3 linked regions of the Homo sapiens genome follow. The protein of the gene in region 1 purifies or fractionates together with the protein of each later gene. This does not show direct contact. Each region holds a gene or a part of one and is shown on either strand. Other genes may lie near its edges.

Region 1 (8,419 bases):
TGAGCCGAGATTGCCCCACTGTACTGCAGCCTGGGTGACAGAGCAAGACTCTGTCTCCAAAAAACAAAAAACCATGTCTTGTTATTAAGCAGTATGATCACCTGGGGTCAAAAGAAATCTGGTCGGGTGCAGTGGCTCATGCCTGTAATGGCAGCTCAGGAAGGTGGCATGTGCAGGAGCAAAGGAAAAGCCTTCCACAGGAGGCAGTGCCCAGGTCTGAGGTCACCTGTTCACAGGGGGTAGGGGAGCTGTCATCAGAGCCCTCCAACAGAGCCCTGAGTGGAATCAAGAAGCATGAACATGCTGCATGAGAAAAAAAAAAAAAGGCACCTTAAAGAAAGCCTGGTGACTGGGGCTGCTACTGTTGTAAATTTCTGAACTCTGCAAGAAGGCCGCACTGCCACAACATTGCTCTCTAGAAATGAGGCCGTGTACAACTGACGCCCTTCAGATATGATGAACACAAGTGTTAACTTTTTTTTTTTTTTTTTTTTTTGAGACAGGGTCTTGCTCTGTCACTAGGCTAGAGTGCAGTGGCGCAATCATAGCTCACCACAGCCTGGATGTGTTAACCTCTTAATGGGTGTTTTAGCCCAACTGAGTTTAGATTCATAGGTTAGAGACACTGAAAATTGGCAGTAATTCTTGAGTCCAGTCAAAACTGAACCACAGTGTTCTCATGCACTCACCTTCCCTCAGATGCACTGTTTCCACCATGGTCTTTGTATCTGGGACAACCTTTTGCCTGAGATACTGCTAGTGGATGAAGACTGCCTTGTTTTCTAATTGTTGTGTCTGTGGAGGCCAATGTTATGGTAATCTTTGACGTCAAGTTAACTACTTGGATTCTTATTTTTTGTTACTGTTTGAAATGAGGCATATAAAGAGACTAGCATTGAACTTGGGAGCTGGGTATACCAAGATACATTCTCCGAAAGTTCTGTTTGTTATTAAAGTGGCAATTTGCTTTACACCTGCCTGCCATTTCTATTCTTTGTTGTTTTTAAACTTGAGTGGGGATAAAGGGGGTGTTATTTATTGGGTAACCTTCCCAAACTACAACACCTACCCTCACTTTTACTGTACAGGCGTGCTGTTGAGGATGGTCAAAGTAACTATAAAATACTAAACCAGAGGCCGGGCGCGGTGGCTCATGCCTATAATCCCAGCACTTTCGGAGGCTGAGGTGGGCGGATCACAAGGTCCGGAGATCAAGACCATCCTGGCTAATAAGGTGAAGCCCCGTCTCTACTAAAAATACAAAAATAAAATTAGCTGGGTGTGGTGGCAGGCGCCTGTAGTCCTAGCTACTCGCAAGGCTGTGGCAGGAGAATGGCGTGAACCCGGGAGGCGGAGCTTGCAGTGAGCCGAGATCACGTCACTGCACTCCAGCCTGGGGGACAGAGCGAGACTCCGTCTCAAAAAAAAAAAAAAAAAAACTAAACCAGAGCTGCAGTATGTGATTGTGTGGTGGGGAAGAGAGAGAGAGAGAGAGAGAGACAGAGAATTCAAATTCATGGAGATGGCCTAAAAACCAGCAAAGCCCCCAGAGAATTATTCACAGCTACCTGAGTCAAAGGACTTGATTATAAAAATGAAGGTAGAAACCAAGGTGGGCCTGGAGTACTTGGGAGATAAACGTGACCACTTCTCTGGGCAGGGGCAAGTGTACCGTCATGCTATGAAGGCAGAAATGGACATGTGCCCTCAGCAGTCCTAGGCGTGAGAACTAGGACGTCTCATGGAGACAAGCTGGCAGCACGGCAGAGCCTCCCTTCACCTCTCCGGGTGGCACGTAGGCACCGAAATTCATTACAAGAAGAAGCCAGTCTTCACAATGATTATAGTCAATCGTCAGTTCTACCCAGTTTTCTCTATTTCAGAGAGTCCCTCCAAGAAAGCATCTTTACCACCTTTACCCAATCTGTCACGGTGGCATAGTCACTTTTGTCTTTCCATTCCCACTCCCCGCCCTTGCCATCCCTCAGCCCACAAACCACATACAATGTCCTCAGTTGCTCCACACGTTCTCTCAGGGCTCAGAGGAAACATTCAAATTCCTCAGTCCTTATGACCTGCCCCCTCCACCTGACACACACAACGGCTCACGTGATTCCCCTCGTTCCCCCATGAACATCTGGGCTCCAGCCAAGACTGCTCCTTCACCAGCCCCAAGAAGCCATGCTCCTCTGCCTCTGGAGGACTTTTTAAATGACCTGGACCCTCTCTGGGGCTGGTATTTATTCCCTAATCTCCCAACATACTTGGATTTGCCCACTGCGCTGTCTCCCAGGCAGATGATCTTCACGTTGTCATCAGCATCATACTTCCCTTGGTCCAACTCACTCGGTTTGGTTTTGTCTTCTGCCATTGGCTCCTAGCTGTAGAGAGGGGTCCAGCCCAAGGGAGGGGAGGGTATTGTCACTGTCTGGGAAGATCAACAAGAGGCTGTTGTCAGAGATAAGTCCCCTCAACCAAATCTCCAGCTGTACCTCCCTCCAGACTGCTTCCCTCAGTGCCAGACTGAGATATGGTATGCAATTGACTACTAGACTTGGAGTAGCAGAGTATGACACACAGGCATCAATAATATGTTATACACAAATAGTTAAGTCCTGCGCACCCCAAATGCTGCTCCTCACGTTACCCATTTGCACAAGACATTCACCAGGCATCCAGTGCCAAAGGCTGTGTGCAACATTATGTCTAGCTCTGTTTTACTCTCCTCACACCTAAATATGACTTTGCAAACATTCCTGAGAATGTAACCACAGTCCAGACTCTTAGCTAGGGGGGCACATAGAAATGATATGATGATGAGACAGCAGCAATAGGTGAGCCTTACTGGGCATTCACCATGAGCAGACCTTGCACAGGGTTCAGAGGATGGAAGACACAATGATAGCAGAGTCTACTGTGGTGAGAGCTACGACAGAAGTATGCACACGGGTCAGGGGTAGAAAATACCAACAGGGCCCCCGAGTTTTCCTGACTGTGCCACCACACAGCTACTGCTTCTGCACAGCCAGGGACTTCGCCTTGTTTATCCAGGGAGACAATTCCTGGGAAGTGGCAGATGCCTGGAAAGCATGATGAGGGGTCTGCCCCCTTTCACCTGTACCCTGTAGAGAGAGCGACAGAAAGCCAAATCCAGCTTCATGGCTCCATGCTTGAAGACGTTCTTTCTTTTGTTTAGAGATAGGGTCTCACTCTGTCGCCCAGGCTGGAGTGCGGTGGCGCGATCACGGCTCACTGCAGCCTCCAACTCCTGGACTCAAGCGATCCTCCCTCCTCGGCATCCCTGGACTATAGGCGTGAGCCACCGCTTACGGGCGAAGACTTGCTTGTCCGTGTCCTTGCCATCTAAGTGGGTAAGCTATCTTTCGATAAATGTTTTTGGCCACCAACCATGTCCAGGCATCGCCAGGCTGCCCGTCCCGCCCCCCACAACAGCCTCGCGAAGCCACCTTTCCGTGCTTCCCCCGACCCGGACGCCCTCTCGCCCACACCGCTAGGGAGGCCTCGGAGGGGCTGTCCCCGCGTGCTAAGCCAGCCACCGGGGCGGATTTGCCCTCACGTGCGGTTCCGAGTGAGGGCTGGAGAGACCAGGGACGCTGCGGGTCGGCCCCTCGGGCCCTGCCGCCAGTCTGGACTCTGCGCGCTCTCGAACCACGCCCGCCGGCCCAGCTCGCGCCGCAGCGCACTCCACTTCCGGCTCGGCCCGCGTCCTCGCAGCTGCTACGCAACCGCACAAGGACCCCGAGGGAGGCTGCCCGGCCGAAGGCCTGAAGGACCCCGCCGGGGCGCTGGCTGCCCAGCGCGGCGCCTGGCGGGAGGGCCGCAGGGAGTGCGCATGCGGCCGAGTGCGGGACTGGGGCTCCTGGCTGTGGGTGTGGTACCGAGGCTTCAGCGGGTGCCGCCCGCCTAGAGGGAGTGGAGCGGTGAGCACGTCAGGGGTGGGGGGCGCAGGTCAAGCTTTCACCAGTTTTTAATTCTTTGATGGGGTAAATTTGAGCAATTTTCTCGACTTGTCGACATTCGTTATTAACTGAGCAGGAATCAGGAGAGGAACCCGGTCCTCTCCACACAGCCCAGCAGGTACGCCGCCCATGTGCCTGTGGAGAAGAGAGGTTCCTGTGGGGCAGACAGGTGTGGACCAAGTAGCTGCGAAATTTCTTCTGAAGAAAACACACAAGGGGGAAGCGAGTGAGCTCAGTGGAGGAGGGGCGCTACCCCAGGGGACGTCCCCATGCATGGGCTTGTGAACCTCGAATATGTGAGACGGTCTCAGTCAATTTAGAAAGTTTATTTTGCCAAGGTTGAGGACGCACGCCCGTGACACAGCCTCAGGAGGTCTTGACATGTGCCAAAGGTGGCCGGGACACAGCTTGCTTTTATACATGTTAGGGAGACAGGAGACATCAATATATGTAAGATGAACGTTGGTTCCCTCGGGAAAGGCGGGACAACTCGAAGCAGGGAGGGGGCTTCCAGGTCACAGGTAGGTGAGAGACAAACTGTTGTATTCTTTCGGGTTTCTGAATAGCCTCCGCAAAGGAGGCTATCACATATTAACCTATCTCAGTGAGCAGAGGGGTGACTTTGAATAGATGGGGAGGCAGGTTTGCCCTAAGCAGTTCCCAGCTTTTTTCCCTTTAGCTTAGTGATTTTGGGGCCCCCAGATTCATTTTCCTTTCACAGGCTAGACAGCTTTAGGAACTGAAAGGTTCACGAGGCTGTAACGAAGAGTCGAGTTGCTCCAGGTGAGCCTGGGCCACAACAGCACGCAGGACCTGGGCGCCCACGAGGGGCTCCTGGGAGGGTTTGGGAAAGGGATGTGTGAACCCTATCTGAGATGGTTTCAGGTAATTTAGAAAGAGGTGCACCCGTGACACAGCCTCAGGAGGTCTTGACGACATGTGCCCAAGGTGGTCAGGGCACAGCTTGGTTTTAGGGAGACATGAGACATCAATCAATATATGTAAGAAGTACGTTGCTTCCATCCAGAAAGCTGGGGACAACTGGAAGCAGGGAGGGGGCTTCCAAGGTCACAGGTAGGTGAGAGACAAAGGTTGCATTGTTTTGAGTTTCTGATTAGCCTCTCCAAAGCAGGGAATCAGATATGCACCTATCTTAGTGAGGAGATAGGTGACTTGGAATAGAAAGGGAGGCAGGTTTGCCCTGAGCAGTTCCCAGCTTGACTTTTCCTTTAGCTTAGTAATTTTGGGTCCCCAAAATTTTCCTTTCAGAGAGCCTACGACTAGATTTGCATCTTTACGTCCTGCGCGGAGGCTGCTACACACATGCAGAAGTCATGCTGGTGGCCTGGACAGTGAAGGGAGAGAAGTGGATTTGGGAGACATTTAGGAGGTAAGATTGCTAGGACCTTGGTGATAGCTTGGACATGGAGGGTGGAGGAGGAGGGGTGTCTAGCAGATAATGCTCTTAGGTTACCACCTGGGATATTAGGGAGAGTGAGCAGGCTGTTTTTTGTTTCTTAGGCAGAACTTGGTTTTGCGGTGCAGTAGGGTGCCTGGAGCCGAAAGCCTGACTTCCTCATACAGGCCAGACCCCACATGTGACTGCCAGGCCACTTTGAGGCTGAGAGAGATGGTTTTGTCTGGCCTCTGTCCTGCACGTGTTTACGGATGACCTCTGTGTTGGCAGATTTGGGGGTCCGCCAGATAGGATCCTGTGAAGAGACCTCAAAGGTCTTTAGTCCAATCTATAAAACATTTTTATGTTGATTATATCATTTCCACAATCAAAGATGAAGAATATATACAGAGGTGTATTTAGTGAATAAGGTTGATGGTGCACCTGCGCTAGGCAGTGTTTTAGTTCGTTGAGACACCAGGGAGTTGAGACAATCCTTTACCTCAGAGTTTTGTGTCTGTAAGTCCTGCTGTTGAGAGGTGTGTGTGTTAAAATGTCTGATTTGGGCAGGTGAGATCTGGGCCCTCTGTAAGGTTAGGTAACAGGAGGTTGGTGTCCAGCAAATATTCAGTGCCCCATCAACATCCCAGTTCTTGTCCACCAATCTTCCAATTCTAGGACTGATGCGGAGGCCCTCAGAGCGACTTCAGAGGAGAAGTAGTATGCTCTGTGGCTATCTTGTTTTGGAGTGTAATTTGTAAATCCTCTGCAAACAAAACGTTGGAAACAAGTAGTGTTTTGGCTTGAGTTTCCTGTAAACGGCTTACAGTCGTTGGGTTAGGGTTGGGTTAGGGTGATGGTGAGGGTGGGGGGTGAGGGTTAGGGGTTAGGGTTAGGGTAGGGTCAGGGTTAGGGTCAGGGTCAGAGTCATGGTTAGGGGTTAGGGTTAGGGTCAAGGTCAGGGGTTAGGGTTAGGGTTTAGGGTTAGGGTTTAGGGTTAGGGGTTGGGGTTAGGGGTTGGTTAGGGTTAGGGGTTAGGGGTTAGGGTTAGGGTTAGGGTTAGGATTAGGGGTTATGGTTAGGGTTATGGTACTGTAAATAATTTCACATTATTACTAATAATAAATTATTATTTGTATTACACTATTACATAATGTAAAGGCTATTAAGACATGTTTGTCTTCAAAGAATGGCCTTGGTTTCTGTGGGCAGTGTCCTCATGGAAAGGTAATGCGTTCCTGCTAAATCATGGACAAAACGGGCTTGCAGGAGCTACAGGCTGCAGCAGCAGCTTCTCCTCTACGTCCTTCACTGCCTCATACTGTTGTTGACTTTGAAAGCTTTTTTCAGTCTAGTTTTATCAACAGAGCTAGTATTTTCATGAGGTTCTACTACATACCAGGTTCCAGAAAGCTAAATGCCTTTTGTTTGTTATTATTCACTAAATACAAATCACAACTCTCTCCTCATTACTCACACAACAAAATTTAGCTGAGGGAGACTGAGTGACTGTCCCAGGGTCACACAGCTACTAAGAGCAGAGTCGTGTTTAGATTCATGTGGGAATACTGAACACAGACATGAACCAGTGGAAACATCCTACGTTCCAAAAGCCTACTCAAGCCATTTGTTCTTATTTTAAGGAAAATCTTTATGCTAATTTTAAACTCCAAATACTTATGAATGGCAGAGATCTACAGATTTGATTCTGATGTAAGAAATGATGGTCACCAGCTGGTTACTGCTACCACCCCACAACCCCGAGCATACTGGACGAATGTCTAAGCCTTGTGGTTAGTGGGGACAATGCTGGTGGAGTCTGAAGTTGTCATGCGGTGACTCATGCAAGCTTAGGCAGATTTGGTGATATATGACACAGAGATGCAAAGAAATGTTGTAGCTGACACACACCGGCTGGCTCTGGGAGATGCAGAAGGAGCACGTCACCCAAAATAGAGCCAGACAGACATCCTTAAGGAAAGAGCCAAGGGGCTGCATCTTAAAGAATGAAGAAAGGATTTGTCATGAGAGATGGGACAGGAAGTTCTTGAGAGGCAGAGGGAGATTGTGAGAATGTTGGGAAGGGAGGAGAGATTCTCGCACATCTGGGAAGCTGACAATCCATCAGCATGTCCAGAAGGAAAATAAGGAGGAGGAGCAGAAATAGATGAGGCTGGATATAGAAGCAGGGCTGAAGCTGTGTCGATTGTGGTAAAGAGTTGTGATTCTATCCAGAAGGCAATAGGTAGCATTCTAAACAGAGATCTTTTAAAACAAGAGTCAGCAAATATTTTCTGCAAGGGGCTAAATGTTAAATATTTCAAGTTTTCCAAGCCATATGGTCTCTCTCTCAATGACTCAGCTCTTCCATTATACCATGAAAGTAGCCAGAGACATTATGTAACACATGTATTGGCTGTGTCCCATTACAACTTTACTTACAAACGCAGACTGTGTCAGACATGGTCCATGCATGGTAGTTTGCCACACTCTGTTTTAGAAAGCTCAGGTTTATGATGTGATGGAGAATGCCTACAAGAGCTCTTGTTTTAAATGGTAGAGTGAACATACACTGGAATTCTATCCTGCTTGACCCAAGCTCTTGATAGCGAAAGGCAGAAAAGATAGATGGTAAACAGATAGATAGATGATAGATAAAGAAAATACATAGCTGTTCCAGAAAACAGAAATGGATAACTTCATGAACCAAAAGCAGAGTAATATACTTTAGAAAGGAAGCAGGCCAGAAAACCCACAGTTGCAAAGCAAATAGAATTTCCAACTGCCTCTTGTAGCCCCTTCCTGGAAGTAGTCACAGCCCAGGGTGTTTGACTTCTTCCTCTGTTTTTTGTTTGTTTGTTGTTTGCTTTTCTGTGGGGTTTTTGTTGTTGTTGTTTGCTTTTTTAAAAAAAAATTCCCTTTCCCTGCTTTTTGGTCACAGCAGCCTTTGTCACTTCAAACACCGCAAGTGTTCTTTAAAAAAAATTATATCAACCTTTCAATTAAAATGCAACATGTCTGAAACTTGGTATCTGGAGAGGTG
Region 2 (7,664 bases), on another chromosome or scaffold:
GTGTTAAAGTCTCCCATTATTAATGTGTGGGAGTCTAAGTCTCTTTGTAGGTCACTCAGGACTTGCTTTATGAATCTGGGTGCCCCTGTATTGGGTGCATAAATATTTAGGATAGTTAGCTCCTCTTGTTGAATTGATCCCTTTACCATTATGTAATGGCCTTCTTTGTATCTTTTGATCTTTGTTGGTTTAAAGTCTGTTTTATCAGAGACTAGGATTGCAACCCCTGCCTTTTTTTGTTTTCCATTTGCTTGGTAGATCTTCCTCCATCCTTTTATTTTGAGCCTATGTGTGTCTCTGCACGTGAGATGGGTTTCCTGAATACAGCACACTGATGGGTCCTGACTCTTTATCCAATTTGCCAGTCTGTGTCTTTTAATTGCAGAATTTAGTCCATTTATATTTAAAGTTAATATTGTTATGTGTGAATTTGATCCTGTCATTATGATGTTAGCTGGTGATTTTGCTCATTAGTTGATGCAGTTTCTTCCTAGTCTCGATGGTCTTTACATTTTGGCATGATTTTGCAGCGGCTGGTACCGGTTGATCCTTTCCATGTTTAGCACTTCCTTCAGGAGCTCTTTTAGGGCAGGCCTGGTGGTGACAAAATCTCTCAGCATTTGCTCGTCTATAAAGTATTTTATTTCTCCTTCACTTATGAAGCTTAGTTTGGCTGGATATGAAATTCTGGGTTGAAAATTCTTTTCTTTAAGAATGTTGAATATTGGCCCCCACTCTCTTCTGGCTTGTAGGGTTTCTGCCGAGAGATCCGCTGTTAGTCTGATGGGCTTCCCTTTGAGGGTAACCCGACCTTTCTCTCTGGCTGCCCTTAACATTTTTTCCTTCATTTCAACTTTGGTGAATCTGACAATTATGTGTCTTGGAGTTGCTCTTCTCGAGGAGTATCTTTGTGGCGTTCTCTGTATTTCCTGAATCTGAACGTTGGCCTGCCTTGCTAGATTGGGGAAGTTCTCCTGGATAATATCCTGCAGAGTGTTTTCCAACTTGGTTCCATTCTCCACATCACTTTCAGGTACACCAATCAGACGTAGATTTGGTCTTTTCACATAGTCCCATATTTCTTGGAGGCTTTGCTCATTTCTTTTTATTCTTTTTTCTCTAAACTTCCCTTCTCGCTTCATTTCATTCATTTCATCTTCCATTGCTGATACCCTTTCTTCCAGTTGATCGCATCGGCTCCTGAGGCTTCTGCATTCTTCACGTAGTTCTCGAGCCTTGGTTTTCAGCTCCATCAGCTCCTTTAAGCACTTCTCTGTATTGGTTATTCTAGTTATACATTCTTCTAAATTTTTTTCAAAGTTTTCAACTTCTTTGCCTTTGGTTTGAATGTCCTCCCGTAGCTCAGAGTAATTTGATCGTCTGAAGCCTTCTTCTCTCAGCTCGTCAAAATCATTTTCCATCCAGCTTTGTTCTGTTGCTGGTGAGGAACTGCGTTCCTTTGGAGGAGGAGAGGTGCTCTGCTTTTTAGAGTTTCCAGTTTTTCTGTTCTGTTTTTTCCCCATCTTTGTGGTTTTATCTACTTTTGGTCTTTGATGATGGTGATGTACAGATGGGTTTTCGGTGTAGATGTCCTTTCTGGTTGTTAGTTTTCCTTCTAACAGACAGGACCCTCAGCTGCAGGTCTGTTGGAATACCCTGCCGTGTGAGGTGTCAGTGTGCCCCTGTTGGGGGGTGCCTCCCAGTTAGGCTGCTTGGGGGTCAGGGGTCAGGGACCCACTTGAGGAGGCAGTCTGCCCGTTCTCAGATCTCCATCTGCGTGCTGGGAGAACCACTGCTCTCTTCAAAGCTGTCAGACAGGGACACTTAAGTCTGCAGAGGTTACTGCTGTCTTTTTGTTTGTCTGTGCCCTGCCCCCAGAGGTGGAGCCTACAGAGGCAGGCAGGCCTCCTTGAGCTGTGGTGGGCTCCACCCAGTTCGAGCTTCCAGGCTGCTTTGTTTACCTAAGCAAGCCTGGGCAATGGCGGGCGCCCCTCCCCCAGCCTCGTTGCCGCCTTGCAGTTTGATCTCAGACTGCTGTGCTAGCAATCAGCGAGATTCCGTGGGCGTAGGACCCTCTGAGCCAGGTGTGGGATATAGTCTTGTGGTGCGCCGTTTCTTAAGCCGGTCTGAAAAGCGCAATATTCGGGTGGGAGTGACCCGATTTTCCAGGTGCGTCCGTCACCCCTTTCTTTGACTCGGAAAGGGAACTCCCTGACCCCTTGCGCTTCCCAGGTGAGGCAATGCCTCGCCCTGCTTCGGCTCGCGCACGGTGCGCGCACACACTGGCCTGCGCCCACTGTCTCGCACTCCGTAGTGAGATGAACCCGGTACCTCAGATGGAAATGCAGAAATCACCCGTCTTCTGCGTCGCTCACGCTGGGAGCTGTAGACCGGAGCTGTTCCTATTCGGCCATCTTGGCTCCTCCCTCCTCGATTGTCCAAAGTGTTTCTCTGCCTTCCTTTTTAGCCCATGACAATGCACACAGTGTTATGAGATGCCTCACGAACACAAATGCAGGTTTTGAAATTGTGTAGCCAAATCTGTAATACAAAAGTCATCCAAATCTGTAATGCAGGTGATTTGGAATGAGCTCACATCAATTTATTTTACATTATTGCCAAAATGAAAATAAGAATATTTGGTCTCCTAAAACTCCCAAAGATATATGTAAGGACCCCGAAGGGTCTATGGCTCCCAATTTGAGAAACATTCGATGTGAAACATCCATAGTCCAGAATGAGTGGTGTTTTGGTGAGCCAGGAGGAATTTTCCCATTCATTATTCCACATCCCAGGTCCTTCAGGTGTTAGAAACTCCTGAGTATTTAAGAAGGTGAGAAACAAGGTCAGGGTCAGGTGTATATATATAGTGCCTAGTGAGATGTCAAGGGCAATGTCAATATTGGGTGAACTAGAGAAAGAATCAAAGAAACATTTGCACTACTGGAGCTGTATATCCTGTTTTTATAAGACATATAGACTAAGGCCTTAAGGGTTAAAATTCACTCTTCTTATAATTACTCTGACAAAAGCAGTTATCGTTTGGAAGACCCTGAATATTTACAAGTTGAAGCAATGAACTTGTTTGTTTGACAAAATAATTCTAAAGAAATCCTATGTGTCATAGATAAATTCCACCATTAGAACTTCCCTCTGGGAGACAGACAAGTGTTTACTTTCCATTTTACAACCTCATATGAGACTAATACAGTCAGGTGAGGCAGCCCTGAACACTCAGAATAAATATTCTCTTCCCATTTCCCTCTTCTGACTACATACTGCACTCAAGTGCTACCTAAATTGTAATAAGTGATACATGAAGCAAGAAGGCATACTGTGTATACCCTCTTAGGAGAGAAAAAGGATTCAAAACACACTTGGAATCACCATGGCACACTAACCTTTCCCCATATGATACGGCTACTTTCATTGTACAAATGAAAAAAGATTGGATAACCTGGGCAGAAAATAAGAAACAGATGAAGATTTGTACACGCTTAAAGAGATAGGGGTAGTGTAACTGAATTTAACAGTAGTTTTGGAGAAGAATAAATCACAAGTTCAGGTTTGAGGAAAAGCTAGAGAAGAGTCTGTAGTTCTGGGAGTACAGTCTCCCTGGTAACACTAAGTTTTAAGACTTTTTCTTTTTAAGCCTTTTTCTTTTTGCACAAACCAGAAGGACAGAATAAATCATCTTTCTTCAAATTCTGAGAGCAAAGCTCTGAGCAATCAGTGAATTCTGAGGGTCACAGCAGGCCACTGCTCAGATGGCTAACACTGAGAGCCTTCTAAGGACTAGAAGTCCAAAATACCTTTCCAAAATCTGAAAGCCAAAAAGAAATTACTACCTTGAGATTAAATTCAAATATCAGAACCAGAAGTGGCCACCACCCAGCAAGTAGAGCTCATAAAACCTAAGGCATGCACAGATTCACAAAAGGCCCAGGAGGAAGGATCAAAGGTTCATTCCCCCTACAATCTGGAGCAAGGCAAGGATGCCCGCTCTCACCACTCCTTCTCAATATAGTACTGGAAGTCCTAGCCAGAGCAATCAGGCAAGAGAAAGAAATAAACCCATCCAAATTGGAAAACAGGAAGTCAAATTATCTCTGTTGGCTGACAATATAATCTTATATCTAGAAAACCCTAAAGACTCCTATAAAAGACTCCTAAGCTTTGATAAACGAATTCAGTTAATTCTCAGGATACAAAAATCAATGTAGAAAAATCAGTAGCATTTGTATACACCAATAATGAGCTGTAGTTATCAAGAGACAGGTTTCTCCCACTCAGCAGAGTAATGATACACATAATTGTGACAGAGGACACATTAAAGAGAAAAAGCAAAAAGCTACAGAATAGCAACAGTTAGAAAACAAGGAGATACAGATACAGACATAAACAGAGACACAGATGTTAGGATCCCGGTTCAGAATCCAGAAAAGGTAAAGAAACTTCCATAAAACCTATGCCAAGCACAATGATAGATCCCAAATCTGGTACTCAAGGTAAATACCCAATACAGTCAAAAGCACCCTTGAACCTCATCTAGGACTTGGGTGTAGCCCACCACCATGTTGCAAAGCTAGAACACATCTTCTCTTCTTGGATGAGAACCAGACATTACTGGCCATGAGCATGAAAAAATACATACATATATATATCCATATATACATATTCATATATACATATATTCATATATACATATATATATATATATATATATATATTCGTCTTTAAATACCACAAACACATCCCAAAGCACCAAGATGCTCACATGTGGAAGATACTCAAGAGCTGAGATCAAAGAGAAAAGAGCTGATTTACCTCTCTCATCTCAAGGTGACTCAGGGCCACCTTTCTACTAAGTGGAAAGAGGAGAAACTGAGGCAAGATGGAATCCATCAGTCTCTCTTCCTTTCCCCTCCATCTGAGCTCTGTGTTTCACTCCCTCTCAACATGTCCCCCTCTGCCACTCTATCTCTGGCCTTCTCTCTTGCTCTCCGGCTCACTCCTGATGTATTTATGTCTTTTTTTTTTTTTTTTTTTTTTTTTTTTGAGAAGGAGTCTCGCTCTGTCGCCCAGGCTGGAGTGCAGTGGCGCGATCTCGGCTCACTGCAAGCTCCGCCTCCCGGGTTCACACCATTCTCCTGCCTCAGCCTCCCGAGTAGCTGGGACTACAGGTGCCCGCTACCACGCCCGGCTAATTTTTTGTATTTTTAGTAGAGACGGGGTTTCACCGTGTTAGCCAGGATGGTCTCCATCTCCTGACCTCGTGATCCGCCCGCCTCGGCCTCCCAAAGTGCTGGGATTACAGGCGTGAGCCACCGCGCCCGGCCGTATTTATGTCTTTCTTTGCCTCTGTCTCTCCTCTCCCTTTTCTATCTTGTCAAGCACCGTTTCATGTAAATTAAGGGAGCTGTGAAGCAACTACACTATTACAAAACAAGGCAATCATTCTGAAAAGGGCTAAACTAGAACCCAAGAAAGGGAAATGGAGAAGCAACCCTCACCAATACTGAAACTTCGCCTCTGCCTACTGGCAGCTACTTGTTTTTAAAAATTTCCCAATTAAATGGGATTGCTGTCCAATGGGTGAGCCTTTCCTCTTGAGTTTAATAAGGTAAGCCGTTTTGCCAATCTCTATACAATTCACATATGGAAAGTTTTGGTTCCTCTCAATTAAATTTGTTTTTAAATTACCAAATAAAAGAATCCCCTTCGACATCGTGCATGTAGAAACATCGCAAACCATGTGAAACAGCTAACGGTGCTGATTTTGACGTCTCAACAAATCCTAGCCTAGCACTGCCTGGCAGGTCACCCATCACTATACCTGCCACACCCTCAGGTACCTGACCTGAGGCTGTCCCTCCTTTGGATACTTTTGGGATACCTGTGCCCACTCACAGACCCTCAGTGGTTCCAGTGCCAGCTGCACCCTCACATTCCTGTTTGTGAGAATGTGGGGTTTTCTAAGTTAATTTATCAGCATGAATCAATTCACAGATAACACTCAAAATTGCTGCAAATGGGAGTTGAGAAAAAACTGAAAAGTTTCAGCTCTGACTAGAGGTCAGAGAAGAGGCCTTCATCCCTGCTCTCAGCCATCCATCAAATGCTCAATACACACACACACACACACACACACACACACACACAGCCTATTTCCTTCTCTTGGCAATCTTTGAACACCAAGACTGGCTCACAACAGTAACTGAAAAAAAAAAAAAAAAGTGAGAGAACCTGCAAAAGAAGTGGAGAAAATGCTCACAGCATGAACTACACTCTCTCTCAAAATGCAGATATATGAAACAAGAATCAAAGAATACTGATTTATTCTATTCATTTGGCAAACATTTACTGAGTATCTCCTGAGTATGAAACTCCCTTTCACCAAGACAATGACCCAGGCATCAGAAACTGGCAAGGCTACATTATAAGTTGGCTCTCTGCCCTGCCCCTCCACCCTCAACACCCACACATTTTCTTCCTACTTCCAGGACTTTTCTTGGCCTGGTAGCACCTGTCCTCCCAAATTCTCTTATGTAACTAAATCACACTGTCCTGCTGCCTTCACCTGTTGGCTGACCTTATCAAACTGACCAGGAAGTGGTCAAGGCCCATCCTGACCTTGCAGACCCTTCATATCTGCCAGGCTCAGCTTACCCGGTCACACAACTCCTTGGACACTCCTTCCTCAGCCTTCAAAACAAAAAGTCCCTCAATTTTCTAAGAGAAAATGAACTCAACAATGACACATATCCCAAAAGCTACTTTCATCCCTTCATGATGCAATATTATCTTCCCTCTAACATCACGATTACTGATGACTGGCGAGTTTAACCCAAAATTGCTTAATATTTTGCTTGAAAGATTCTTTAAATGAAAATCAACAGTGTCATGCTTTGCCTTTATAGGAACCAAACATTTTCCTATTTAATATCCGTTCCTCTCAAACTGGATGTGAACACTCCCCAGGATAGCCCTGGGGCAGACTGTCCCCAGGGATAAGATTGAGTGCCAGGTGGGAAACAAAGCCACAAGTTGGAATGGCACACCTTCCTAGAAAGACAATTCTCCCTTCAGAAGAAACTCTATTTTATATGAAAACAAGTCCCAAAATATTGTGTACAAAGATGAACAACTTAATCACTTTTTAAAGAAAAGCTCAAGACTTCAAAGAAAATTCTTGCTTGCAGCCGTCTGTTGGGCTATGTCCACAATACAGGGAGTTTCCTACAAATGTTCTTTGCCTTTAAATGTTCTTCGATGAAGTTGCTGGAAAAATGTTTCATCCACACCATGAGCATCTTGAGGGCATGAACTACATACTATCCTTCTCTTTGTCCCCAGCAACCTAGGACAGTACCTAAGCCAGTATTTGGCATATGGCAGGCAATTGGTAATGCTTATGGAATACATTTGGCTGAAATAATGCCGACAGCATTATCAATAACAAAAAAGTGTTTAAATCACATTTGGATGGAAGGAAGAAAAGGTCAACAGCTGTATGAGGAAGTGAAGTAGAATTAATCCAATTTACCAAAACAGCGGATGGCTGCCATGGTAACAATCTGATGCAGCAACTCAGTTTAGATCTCTTCCACTTGAACATGAGAGGAAGACAAATATTGTACTTGTTAATCTCACATCAGGAGGTG
Region 3 (7,588 bases), on another chromosome or scaffold:
TCGTAGAAAAGCCTGTGATTGTGGCACCTGGGCAGGGCAAAGGGGACTGCTGGATGCCCAAACACAACGTTTCAGAATCTCAGCGGATTAGAACACTCGGGAAACTAAAAATAGATCTACCAGATGACCCAGAAATCCCACTACCAGGGCAAATATCCAAAATAAAAGAGATCAGTCTATCAGAGAGATATCGCAGCATTCCTGGGTGCTGAGCACCATTTACGACAGCCAAGATATGAGATCAACCTGTGTCCGTGGAGGTTTGAAGGGTTGAAAACATGAGGGTTAGATACACAGTGGCATACCATTCCACCACAAAAGAAGAATGAAATCGGGCCGGGTGCGGTGGCTCACGCCTGTAATCTCAGCACTTTGGGAGGCTGAAGTGGGCGGATCACGAGGTCAGAAGATCGAGACCACCCTGGCTAACATGGTGAAACCCCGTCTCTACTAAAAATACAAAAAAATTAGCTGGGCGTGGTGGCAGGTGCCTGTAGTCCAAGCTACTCGGGAGGCTGAGGCAGGAGAATGGCATGAACCCAGGAGGCAGAGCTGGCAGTGACCTGAGATTGCACCACTGCACTCCAGCCTGGGCAATGGAGCAAGACTCTGTCTCAAAAAAAAAAAAAAAAAGAAGAATGAAATCCTGTCATTTGTAGCAACATGGATGGAACTGGAGGCCATTGTGTTAAGTGGAACAAACCTGGCACAGAAAAACAAGTATCACATGTTCTCACTGCTATGTGGGCTCTAAAGAAGTTGATCTCATGGAGGCAGAAAACACAATGCTAGACACCAGAGGCTGCGAAGGGCAGTGGGGAGGGATGACGAGAGGGTGGTTAATAAGTATAAACATACCGCGATAGAGAAGGAATAATATCAGCTGTTCAATAGCACAGTAGGGTGACTGTAGTTAACAACAGTGTATTATATGTTTCAATGTGGCTAGAACAGAGGATTTGGAATGTTCCCAACACAAAGATATGATGAATGTTTGAGGTGATGGATATCCCAAAATGCCCTATTTGATCATTATGCATGACATGGTGGTATCAAACTATCACATGTACCCCATTAATATGCATAATTATTATGTGTTTATAAAAAAGACACAAAAATGAAAATTAAAAAATAATAAAATGGCTTAAGATGGTCAAAGAAAACCAGAGCTGGACAGGAGTTAAAGCAGGAAAGTCTGACTTTACTGAGAACCATTTCAATAGGGGAAAGAGACCTCCATGGAGAACCAGCCTAACTGCACACAACACCCAAGGAGCAGGCTGGGGCCTATGGATTAAAAGTTACTAAGAGAAAACATCAGTGGGAAGGGGGTTCTGGCTACACCGACCTAACAAGACCTGCTGAAGACAGGCCTGCGTGATCAGACGTCACCTGGGAGGGACGGGGTTGAGGAATTTAATCAGATGCCAAGGTCAGGGTTCTCGCTAAAACAACCTGGTAGAATTCTTGCTGAAACAGGATCTTACGAGGAAGAGCACGGATGCCTAGGAGAAGGTGCAGGAGCCTGACAAGGGCTTGACCAAGCAAAGACGTCATCCAGGTGCTGCTCCCCGAGCCTTCTAAAGACGGCACAGCAAGCACACAGGTGACCCAGTGGTCGCCTCCTAGCCGGAAAGGCCTAGACTCTCTTCTTAGGTTGCCGTCGGGTGGGAAAAATGGGAAAACCCTGGGAACTGGACAGAGAAAATGGGCGGGGGCTACCTTTCTCAATGTTTTCGTTCAGATGGCAATTCCTCTTGGTGTCGGCACCAATAACCTTATCATTCTCATCCACAACAATCAGCATTTCCTCCAAGCGCTGCAACTGACGCCTGTCAACCCAGTCAAGATTTATGTCAGACATAGCTGCTGGCTGTGACCCGACCTGAAATAGATGCACACAAATGCCTCTTTATGTGAAAGATATTGCCATCTCGTTTTTGCTATGTGTTACCAACCACATTAGGATTTAGCATACACCTTCTCTACAAGTGACAGCAATTGTGTTGAAGCAGCACAGTTCTGAGATATGGAAGGTGAATCATCTGTTTCTAATGTGGTGTCTCTCTGAACGGGAAATCTTGGGTACATACATACTCCTCATGTTTTCCAGGTTTCCTTTAGTGACGAGTTAAAGAATCCCCGCCCCACCACACACACACACACACACACACACACACACACACACACACAAAACACACCGAGGTAAACTGTAGGTAACACTCTTTGTACAAGTTTTTGGGGAAAAGTGCAGCCCTGTGCAAAACCACTGGACCTGGATCAGACGTGGAGAAACACACAGCCTTGTAGGAAAGCTACGTCACCCACAGAAGGGCTATGGTCCTCTTCAGAGCCAAGCAGATTCTTAGGTGAAGATCTTCTCACAAAATGTTTTCAGGGCCAGGAGCGGTGGCTCACGTCTGTAATCCCAGTACTTTGGGAGGCCGAGGTGGGAGGATCACTTGAGGTCAAGAGTTTGAGACCAGCCTGGCCAACATGGTGGAACCCTCTCTCTACTAAAAAATACAAAAATTAGCCAGGCCTGGTGGCACATGCCTGTATTCCCAGCTACTCAGGAGGCTGAGGCAGGAGAATCACTTGAACCTGGGAAGCAGAGGTTGCAGTGAGCCGAGATCGTGCCATTGCTCTCCAGCCTGGGCAGACAGAGTGAGACTCTGTCTCAAAAAAAAAAAAAAAAAATGTTTTCAGGGTCATTTATCTTCATGTAAAACCTTCTCATCATCCTTTTCTACTTTTTAAAAAAATGCATTCACGTCTGTCCATTATCATTACTGTTAATATTTTCAGCAATCTGCTCCTCCTCTTTGCAAAAGGCTGTTTGACTTAATGCATGGACATGAGATACAATAGAAATGCAGAGAAAACAATTACTGAATATGTACAAATTTAGATCATAAAAGAAAGAATTCCCACAAGGTAAAACATATGCACTAACCTCTCTTGGAAGCTGGAGACTCCTGGGTATCAGATGTGGAACTCAATGTGCAAGTTGAACCAGGGCCCTTTTATACCCTGGGGATGTAGAAAGATATCAGCTAAGGCAATCTGATATTTTTGTATTCTTAACAAGAAAACACACCCCGGTCTCTCTCTATCTCTCCATCTCTTTCTCTCTATCTTTCTCCCTCTCAATTGAGGGATAATAGAAAATTGTTTTGACACAATCTCACTTTAAAAAATGCTTTTAGTTTTTAAACCTAGGGTAAGTTATTTTCTACTCTATGGCTTTCTTTTTTTTTTTTTTTTTAAGGTGATGTCTAGCTCTGTTGCCCAGGCCAGAGTGCAGTGGCGTGATCTCGGCTGACTGCAACCTCTGCCTCCCGGGTTCGGGCGATTCTCCTGCCTCAGCATCCCGAGTAGCTGAGATTACAGGCGCCCGCCATCACGCCCAGCTAATTTTTTTGTATTTTTAGTAGAGACGAGGTTTCACCATGTTGGCCAGGCTGGTCTCCATCTCCTGACCTCAGGTGATCCGCCCGCCTCGGCCTCCCAAAGTGCTGGGATTACAGGTGTGAGCCACGGCGCCGTTCGATGGCATCTTTTTAATTCACTTGCTGTATATATCATCCCAGATTTTAAAAAGAAAAAATAAAGGTGGCAAATGGAAGAGAAAAATAATAAACATTGTGACTAAAATTACTGAATAAATTCTTAGGATAGCTGAAAATCGATAAATAAATGCAAGACCTTGGAAACCAATGTGTTTGGAAGAGCTAAAAAACTGTATAATTTCTTGCCTATCATATTCCAAATATCATCTACCAACTAAAGCTCTAGGCCAAATAGTTTTGCAAGTAGGGTCTCTTAAAATATCAAAAAAATGTTTGCCATATCTGTCGGTTCTCTCAGGGAATATGAGGAGAGAAGCACGATGGACGCATGACTCCGCTGACTTTGGCACGGATAATACAGAACAAAAATAACACAGCAGCAGTGATGGGTAATATTCTATAAAAAGATTAATGTGTTTTGCTCTTTTGTCTTTCCATAAGTTCACCTTTATGCATGTAATTTTTAGTTACGTAGAAAATCAAAAGGCTATGCCTGAAATGTTTTCCCTGGAAATCAGTTCTGAGACTCAGGAATAAATGGTCTGTTTGAAACTTGTTTCTTTTGCAGTCAGAAGAGTAAGAATGGGAGAATGATACTCTTTTAAAGATCTAAAAAATAATAAATAAGTCTATGAATTAGGCTTTGAGGAAGAAACTAATATACAATACCGTACCTATTATAATCCAACAACTCTAATAGTAATAATAATAATAGTAAGACAGCCAGACACACATTGTGTCCTTCCTTTGTGCCAGTTTCTATTTTAAGAGTTTAATGTATATTAATTCATTTGGTCCTCACGACAGCTTTCTGAGATAAGCGTTATTTTTTATTATCACAGCATCGATAAGGAACTGAAGCACAGAGAGGTAAATTACCTGCCCAAGGCAATGTGGCTGCAGATGCAGCTGAGCCCCCAGAATCTGTGCAGTTTAACATGTTGGGATCGTCACCACCAAACTAAGCACTGAAAGCTTTAGAGGCAAATGTTATCAAAATTTCAAGGAAGGAATTGTCATTCTCTGTAAAATGTTCTAGGGGATAAAAAAGGAGGGAAACCCTTTGCTAGGTTGATCTGGGTACAAGGTTCTGACACATAAAGCACACAAAAAACATTATAAAGGAAAGGAAGGAAGACATTTTGATTAGGCTATATGCGGAGAATTTTCTTAAGAGAGGTTATGACAACTTTAAGAATGACAGTTGATGACCTATAATGCTGCAGGTAGGAGGTTAAGAATAAACTCTAGGAATAGATGATTACATCTGATTAAGGCAAATTAGAAGCAACAGAAAGGGCTCTAGATATCAGTGAAATATAGAGAAGGACATGGAGGCCAAGACTGGGAAAAGCAGGTAAAAAGAAATGGAAGTGGAAAGAGTTAAAAAGGAGTAGGCCAAGTATTGTAGGTATGAAAGAGAGGGTAAAACAAATACAGCATGTGCTAAAAGGGGTATCCTTGAACAAGAGAGCCATAATAATAAAGAAAAATATCCCAGACACACAAGATGACTTAAACCCACAGATGGAAAGGGCTTGCCATGTTCCAGAAATACTGACACATTATCGTCGACACTGGGGTAAACTTCTCAGATCTCTGAGAAAACTGCTGCATGCAGAAGAGAACAGCCACTCCCAACACCATCACTCCATCTCCTAGGCATTGTACAACCCTAATCCTCTGCTTTCCACCTAGAATGATGGGTGATCCATGTACTTACCAAAAGTCACTTCTTGGGTCAGGTGTGGTGGCTCATGCCTGTAATCCCAGCACTTTGGGAGGCTGAGGCGGGTGGATCACCTGAGGTCAGGAGTTTGAGATGAGCCTGGTCAACATGGTGAAACCCCATCTTTACTAAAAATAGAAAAAAGGGCCGGGTGCGGTGGCTTATGCCTGTAGTCCCAGCACTTTGGGAGGCCAAGGCAGGTGGATCACGAGGTGAGGAGATCGAGACCATCCTGGCTAACACGGTGAAACCCCGTCTCTACTAAAAATACAAAAAAATTAGCCGGGTGTGGTGGTGGGCGCCTGTAGTCCCAGCTACTCAGGAGGCTGAAGCAGGAGAATGGTGTGAACTCGGGAGGCCGAGCTTGCCGTGAGCAGAGATCGCTCCATTGCACTCCAGCCTGGGCAACAGAGCGAGACTCTGTCTCAAAAACAAACAAAAAACAAAAAATAACTTCTTCTGCAGCAGATTCACCCACAGTCACCTACTCAAAGACATCGTCCAGCAATTTTCCCTTTTTCTTCTCTATCATCACGTTTTCTCTCTCTCTGTTGGAATTCTCCTATCAGTCTGCAAGCATGTGACTATGATTTCATTTAAGTAACAGCTAGTTTTTTAGACCTCATTTGCCCAGCAAGCTACTCCTTTGCAGGAACACTCTTAGAAAACTTCCTTCATGCTCACTATATCCAGTTCCTTTCTCTAATATTTCTCGTTCCTTTTCTCACGTTTAAAACTATCAAGTAACTTAACCTAAATTGTTAAGTACAATTGTTGAGCTGTTCAAATTTTCAACTCCTGTCAACAAAATTCCAAAGAACAAGCTTCTAAGATAAGCACTTCCTGATATTTGATAACATAGGTTAAAATTTCTGTAAATATCTTAAGAGATTATACTCAAATCCATATGTTGGAAAACGGTGATGAATAAAATTTTGGCAGTGAGGAAAATAAAAATAACTTTCCATAATAGGGTTATTTTTATCTATATAAATCAAGAAAGAATTAACACTTTAGCAATGATCAGAAAAGATGAGGCCCTTGGTATTACTGGGAAAATTTGGAAGAGATAATTAATTTGGGAGAGCTTCTAGAACAAGTACTCAGAAGTGTTCAATAATAAGTAAAATGACACATATGTAATTGATGTCTTAAGGCTGATGACAGCAGCCCTCCTAAATGAATCTGCAGTTTGCTACTAAATCCATACAATTCGCCTCCTCTAATATATACGTATTTTGAGACGGAGTCTCCCTCTGTCTCCAGGCTGGAGTGCAATGGCATGATCTCGGCTCACTGCAACATCCGCCTCCTGGGTTCAAGCAATTCTCCTGCCTCAGCCTCTCGAGTAGCTGGGACTACAGGTGCACGCTGCCACCCCTGGTTAATTTTTTTTTTGTATTTTAGTAGAGATGGGGTTTCACCACTTTGCCCAGGCTGGTCTCAAACTCCTGAGCTCAGGCAATCCGCCTGCCTTGGCCTCCCAAAATGTTAGGATTACAGGCGTGAGCCACTGCGCCTGGACCTCCTCCAATATTTGGCCAAGCCACGCAATCTTTAAGCTCCCATGTCTGTCCATGATTGTAGGTTTATAATTTGGAACTTCGGTTATTTAATTAATTAAAAATATTCAGATATATCCTGCAAATAAATACAAAGTTTTTGTACTCAGCATCTTTAGTGCACTTTCCCACAAGGAGTTGTATGTAAATGAAAAAAATAGATAAATGCAAGCATGTAAATCAACTCCTATTATTAACCATTTACTTAGCTCAAGTTTATTTACACCTGAATGAAAAGTTCCATTTGCATCAAAAATACATTCGTATACTCTTAAGGCAGTGTCCGGCGCAGCGGCTCACGCCTGTAATCCTAGCACTTTGGGAGGCTGAGGCGGGTGGATTACTTGGGCCCAGGCATCCAGCCTGGACAACAATGGCAAGAGCCATCTCTACAAAAAATACAAAAACTTAGCCAGGCATGGTGGTGTGCACCTGTAGTCCCAGCTACTCTGGAGGCTGAGATGGGAGAATCGCCTGAGCCTCAGAGGTCAAGGCTGCAGTGAGCTGGGATTGAGCCACTGTACTCCAGCCTGGATTACATATATTTGTATATTCCTAAGGCACATAATGGACCTAGGTCACCAAAACTAAAAGATATTCTAGACCAAAATTTTGAATGTAATTTAATAACCTTGTACAAACCCTCTACAGCTGCACATTACCAAAGCTAGTATCACTGTACCTAGTGGCTTACTGCCTCATTCAATTGAAAAGATCAAACTAAT

What was found. The genes of interacting proteins can lie anywhere in the genome.
Region 2: the proteins of RABL2B (region 1) and RASEF purify together in Homo sapiens (affinity purification with mass spectrometry; 3 studies listed by BioGRID and IntAct, with this or other methods). This does not show direct contact.
Region 3: the proteins of RABL2B (region 1) and IDI2 purify together in Homo sapiens (affinity purification with mass spectrometry; 3 studies listed by BioGRID and IntAct, with this or other methods). This does not show direct contact.

What each region holds. Positions count from the first base shown.
Region 1 is NC_000022.11:50,779,924-50,788,342, forward strand, and holds the start of RABL2B (rab-like protein 2B), read right to left. Parts: upstream 3,714-8,419; 5' UTR 3,578-3,713; exon of another isoform or gene 3,468-3,577; intron 3,372-3,467; exon of another isoform or gene 2,425-3,371; 5' UTR 2,372-2,424; coding exon 2,265-2,371; intron 1-2,264. UniProt on the Homo sapiens protein: Small GTPase required for ciliation. Activated in a guanine nucleotide exchange factor (GEF)-independent manner via its intrinsic GDP for GTP nucleotide exchange ability.
Region 2 is NC_000009.12:83,053,143-83,060,806, forward strand, and holds part of RASEF (ras and EF-hand domain-containing protein), read right to left. Parts: intron 1-7,664.
Region 3 is NC_000010.11:1,022,860-1,030,447, forward strand, and holds the start of IDI2 (isopentenyl-diphosphate delta-isomerase 2), read right to left. Parts: upstream 3,001-7,588; 5' UTR 2,957-3,000; intron 1,886-2,956; 5' UTR 1,865-1,885; coding exon 1,723-1,864; intron 1-1,722. UniProt on the Homo sapiens protein: Catalyzes the 1,3-allylic rearrangement of the homoallylic substrate isopentenyl (IPP) to its highly electrophilic allylic isomer, dimethylallyl diphosphate (DMAPP).